Regions from separate parts of the Homo sapiens genome. Here region 1 is linked to region 2. The links come from fine-mapping of genetic effects on gene expression. A gene starts in region 2. The other region holds a variant in brackets. All regions are shown on one strand. Distances are between the middles of the regions.

Evidence for each region. PIP is the estimated chance that this variant, and not a neighbour inherited with it, causes the effect.
Region 1: its variant is fine-mapped to the expression of TEX35 in whole blood (TOPMed, PIP 0.93).

The regions. Positions count from the first base shown.
Region 1 is chr1:178,601,285-178,604,196 of GRCh38, reverse strand. No RefSeq gene overlaps it. Among named protein-coding and RNA genes, the nearest start is that of C1orf220, 60 kb to the right of the region's middle. The variant T/G (reference allele first, on the strand shown) is at 1,628.
Region 2 is chr1:178,511,969-178,514,880 of GRCh38, reverse strand. TEX35 (testis expressed 35) reads right to left here and starts at 1,772. Exons shown (of 9, transcript NM_032126.5): 1 at 1,654-1,772; 2 at 804-854; 3 at 113-181. The coding sequence starts at 1,692. It overlaps LOC101928866 (a long non-coding RNA gene), which reads left to right and starts at 1,831. Exons shown (of 6, transcript XR_001738307.2): 1 at 1,831-2,239; 2 at 2,599-2,805.

The DNA.
Region 1 (2,912 bases), 89 kb before region 2:
TGCTACCATAACTAGGAGACCAAGAGGGCAGCAATTCACTCATGAGGGAGGGCAGAGAGAGTCCCAGGGAGGAGGGAAAACTGTGGGTGGAGCTGAGTGCTAGAGGCAAGAACTCAAAGAGAAAGCGGGGACAGATGAGATTGATGGTGCCATACAACCCTCCTTTCAAAGCTGAGTATTTAACATTGTTGAAAAATCAGCATTCATCCCTTTTATTTTATAACTGGTAAAGACCTTTATAATCCTTCAGTGGCCGAGAGGACCTACTGGGCCAGTCTGCTCTGTGACTCTCCCTCATATCTAATGAAATGGGCAAGGCACTCCCAGAGGCAGGCCCTGGGCCCTTGGGTCAGGGATCTACCCCTGCTTTTGAACTTCTTTTGGCCTCCTTCAGTGCTCTGCCCCTTATAGCCGGGCTTCAGGGTATAGTCCATGTCCATGTGGTTGCTTATACCTCAAAGCTACTTCTGGATAGCCTGAGCCAATCTCGTGCTACTCAAGAAGTAAAGGAGAAGAATTTCCAACTATATACCTGGCTTTGTGAATAGTCTATGGGAGCTACTTATTGGGAGCCTCCACAGAAAAACCTGTTTCCCACTGTTACATATGCTCACTTTTCATCCATTCAGATGCAGAGGCTAAAATGTAAAACCTAATATAAATTCAAAAAGGAGGTACATAAGCATTTCTGTATCTATCACTTGCAATGCTCTTTTTACCTGGACAAATCAAGAGCGAACCTGTTCTTATTTGAGGTCACAGGAACGGCACGTCTTTTGTGACATTTCAGGCTCAGCTTACGGAGAGTTTCTTAGTGGTGAACCAGGATGTTTTGGTGATAACTTGCAAAAGGGATGAGTGAAGTAACTACAATGAAGACTGATGATCTAGATTCAGGATTCCATTCCCTTCTTGTTCCTATATGGTTGAACATTGGGAGACACTCCCAGGATCTCCATTTGTTTCTCCATAACTTTAAAAGCAACCAAAATTTTTAACTAGCTCTATGCACCATGCTAAATGCTTTATATAGATATATGTGTGGAATTTAGTCCTCAAAACAATTTTGTGAGATAGGTGTGGGTAACCCCATTTTACAGATGAGGACTCTTTGAGTCCCTGAGAGGTTAAGTAACTTGCCCGAAGTCTGAGTGCTGGTGAGTGGTGGATCTAAGATTCTAAACCAGCTCATCTGATGCCAGGTCCACATACTTTATGCATTTTACCTTCTGGGAAAGAACTAATGCCTCTTTTCGTAAGGTTTGAGAGAACAAATAAGAAAGTACATATAAAAAGCTTTGAGAGTTGGGAATCAAGGTATCTGTAAGCCTTAGATTCTTAAGTATGGTGAAAAGAAAATTGAAAGGGATCAGTTAAAATCTCACAAGATCAAAATGTATTGCTCAGGGATTCTCAAAATTAGGAATTGTAAGTAGAAACATGGATCTCAGCCTTTTTATCTATAGGTAAGAGGCTGAAAAGGCTCAGTTTTGCTGCAGATTCCAAATTGATGAATATGTGTGATGGCTTTCCAAGTGAGAAGAGCTCTCTGAGTCTTGAAAAAATGGTTTATGACCACAACTTATAGGAGGACTATTAGTGAAGGAAATATGGACTTCCAACTGTT[T/G]AAAACAGATTTTAAGAAAGAAACCATGACTGTTTTACAAAAGTCTTGTGTAATGGACAGAGATAGCCATGTTAGTTTCCATTTTCTGCAGAAAGGGGGCATCTCATTTAATTCAAATCAACCCAACAGTCCTCGGGGTTTGGAGACCTCTGTCATTCTCCAGATTTAGCCAGGCCAAAGTATAACATATACATGCCTTAGATGTCTTACAAAAGTCACGTCACTCCAGAGAAAATGTGAATACCTCACAGAAGCTCTGGGGACAGTCCACTGACTTCAATTATTTTGGAAAGAAAGTGAAAGCTCAGGAGTGGCCTTTGAGTTGTGACACCCCCCCTTGCATTGCAGGGACTGGCCTCAAATCAATCTAGGCTCTCTGGATAGGCTGGCTTCAGAGCATTTGGTTCTGAAGTGATCTAAACAAAGACATATTTTTTATGGCTATTCTAAAAAGATAGCTGTTGCTGGGCATGGTGGCTCATGCCTGTAATCCCAGCATTTTGGGAGGCTGAGGCGGGCAGATCACCTGAGGTCAGGAGTTCAAGACCAGCCTGGCCAACATGGTGAAACCCAGTCTCTACTAAAAATACAAAAATTAACCGGGTGTGGTGGTGGGTGCCTGTAATCCCAGCTACGCAGGAGGCTGAGGCAAGAGAATTGCTTGGACCCGGAAGGCAGAGGTTGCAGTGAGCTGAGATCGTGCCCCTGCACTTGAGCCTGGGCGACAAAGCAAGACTCCGTCTCAAAATAAATAGGTAGATAAACAGATAGCTAGCTAGCTATCTGGTCTACCCTGTCCTCTGATGTTAGATGCCACAGAAATAGAGAAAATGCAATGTCTTCTTTTCACAGTCTAACTCTGTTGGATAACATGATTTTCCTATTTGACTGTGTTTTTCATGTTGTTAACTCCATATGTAGAATATGTCAGAGCCATGAAGGTGTTTGGCTGAGAATCTTGGAGGCTGGGGTTGTAAACTGAATGTGTAGCCTCCTTCGATGGGAGGAGTATTCACAGAATCTGAGTGCTGAGTGTGGGAGATAATTTGAAGTAGGCAGCGTCTAAAATAGTTCCTGACAACCCAGTGCAATGACTCACACTTTGGGAGGCTGAGGCAGGAGTTTGACACCAGCCTCAGCAACATCATCAGACCCCGTCTAGACAAAATAAAATAAAATAAATTAGCCTTTAGTGGCACATGCCTGTATCCTAGCTAGACAGAGGCAGGAGGATTGCTTGAGCCAGGAGTTCGAGGCTGCAGGGAGCTATGATTGCATCCCTGGA
Region 2 (2,912 bases):
TGCCTATGTAAGAGGATATTCTTGTATTTAGGAAACAGGCACTGAGGATTTGGGGAAAACTTACACTCACGTGGTTTGGAATATAGACATGCCTCCAAGTTCACGCACTCACCTTTAGGTCCTGTGTCACTCCTGCTTTGGTAAACCGCCCTTCTTGTTTAACTGCTTTGTAATCAAATGTCTGTGGATTGAAACAGGAACACAGACCTTTGGGAATTGCAGATGGGCGGTGGAAGTGCAGAGGCAGAAGAGATCCCCCTGTGTTTCTGTTCCTCCCTTAGGGCTAAGGCAAGAGGAAAGCTGGTGGCCCCACCTGTGCAGAAGGTTCCTCTATCCTCCTCCCTCTTTCAGCTCATCTTGTTCCACTCCCCTGCTGGCCCACGGGGCCTCAGCTCCTTTTGTCCCTTGAACAGCCAGGCTCATTCCCACCTTGGGCCTCAGTGCATGCTGCCTCCTCTGCCTAGAAGGCTCTTACTCTGCCTTTGCAAAGCCAGAGTCTTGTCCTTCAGCTCTCAGCTCAAAGGAAGGCCTTTCCCTACCACCCACTCCACGGCAGCCACTCAGACATGTCTCCCTGTCTTGATTCCCAGCAGAGCAGGTAACACTGCTGAATGAGTCCTTGTTCGTTTATGTATCTGATTGGTTACAGTGTGAAGTTCTATGAGAGCAAGAACTCTCAGTGCATCCCCCAGCACCTGGGACAAATCTTGGCCACTAGGATCAGCAAATGACCCCTGACTCCTGGTCACTTCCCCATGGATCTCAGGCCTGGCTGCCTGCATGGCCTCAAAAGGGCTTCTTACTTTGGTCGGCTCTGGCTTCAATTCCAGGCAAACTGCCTTGTAGTTCTTGCTCTGCAAAAAGAGGAGACTGAGATTCAGGCTGGCAGACATCAGGATTGGGGAGGAGAACATCTGGCCCTTGCACGGGAACCCTGCCCCCTGCCCCCCACAACCATGCAACCCTGCCTGTCCAACTGGCTTGAGCTCAGGCTCACAGACCCCGCAGCACCCGGATCCGATTCCTAACAAATCACATCTTGTCGTGCTGTCCTCTTCCTATGGGCGTGTGTCTGCCTATTTGGCAGGCAGCCCTCTCCCTGCTGGAGGCGCCAGCGTGGAGAAAGCACTTTAAGATAACTAGAAGCAAGCCCCGGAAGTGTTGTTTCCAGAGCAAGGGCTTTGGCCATAGGCAGATTTGCACTATAGTCTCAGCTGACCTCTCTACTATCTCTGTTATTTTGGGTGAGTTGCTTAGCCTCTCTGAGCCCCCATTTCCTCATCTATAAAATCGACGTGATGATTATATTTATCTAATAAGGTTATTCTGAGCCTTAGCCCTGCTGGTTAGATGTGGGCCTGGCAGGCCTGGCATGGGCCGTGGAACCATGAGTGGTCTTGGAGTAGGGAGTGCTCCCTTGGCAGTGCTCCTCATCCCCAGAGGGAGGCAGCAGAGGCCTCTTTCCTTCCCACCCCCAAGGCTAGGGATTAATCCCACACCCCTTCCAGACTGAGAGGCTGCTTTATGCTCAGTACAGAGAAAGAAAAACCAGAGATTCATGCGAGCATTCTCTGTATCCCTTGCCCCGACACCATCTCCATTCAGTAGGAGCTCAGAGAGGACCCACACTGTCCAGCAATGTCTCTCTTTTACCAGATGTGTTTTCTTCAATTCTGCCCTCTTGGCCGACATGATGGAGGAGGCCAGGGTGTTCTTCAACTCCCCACAACAGCCCCTGGGACCAGGCCACTGTCCTAGGCAACTTACAGGTCAAGGTGAGGGCAGGGTGACCACCCCTTTGTGTACGGAACAGCTGAGGTCACAATGCCAGGACCCACATGGTGGTCCAGAGCGTCACCACAGCTTCAGGCCTGGGGGGCTTCGGCCACTGAGATGAGGGGTTCAGGCCAGGTTTCAGAGTCCCACCAGGCCTCCCTCTTGCAACAGAAGGAAAGTCCACACTGAGGAGGATCATGGCCTGCTACGGTCGAAGTGCAAGGCACGCGTCAGAAGCAGTGGCTCCTTCTGCAGCAGGACTCACCTACTGACTCAGAAGGACGTCCTCCAGGGACAGCCAGCTCCTCCTCTGAGCGCACAGCCCATGTCCTCTGCTGTGCGCTCCTCGCGCGAACCGACCCCACCTCGGACCGGAAGCCACCTTGGGCTGGAGGATGCCATGAAGTCTCTCTGGTTCAACGTGCATGCACCGTCTCACTTAACCTGGGTTACTCTGTATGAGGTGGGGTAGCCAGTCTCAGCAGGATGGTTTCTGATGCCTCTGACCTCACACTGCCCCTGTCCCACAACCACCCCCAGACCCCTGCCCACCTAAAAATTCTCTTTTCCTAGTTCTTCTATCATCCGGGAAGAGGGTTGGGACAAGAAGCTAAAGATAAGAAGCTTTTCGGGCAAATGAAGAATACTAAAGAAAAGGCCATTCTGCGGGTAGCCATAGTTTGTGCTAAAGTAGACAGTCAGAGGAACATGGCACCCCATGGGATAAAAAATCACTGGGGATCTGGGTTGGTGAAATTGATTTCTCTTTTCCTCTTATCACTGGTCATTCACTTCCTTCTTCCCTCTCATTTCAACTGCTAGTTGCACAGAAAAGGCCAACATGGACATCTGAGGACAGACAGCACAGGAGTACAGGAACTAATGCAAATTGCATGTGAATGACATCCCCATGCAGGCCACTACTGACCACACTTACCCTCCCATTTCACACACCTGCTTGGGACTATCCTTCCTGGAGGCCACTGGAACTTCTGGAGCCACCTGCAGCACTTCTGATGCATTTCCTAGGTGGTGATTTCCCAGCCCTGACACTGGTGACAGCTGTGGGTCTTACTCCACCATAGCCAGAGGAGAATGTGTCTGCCACTGCATCAGCGGAAGGAGAGGGAGTTGGG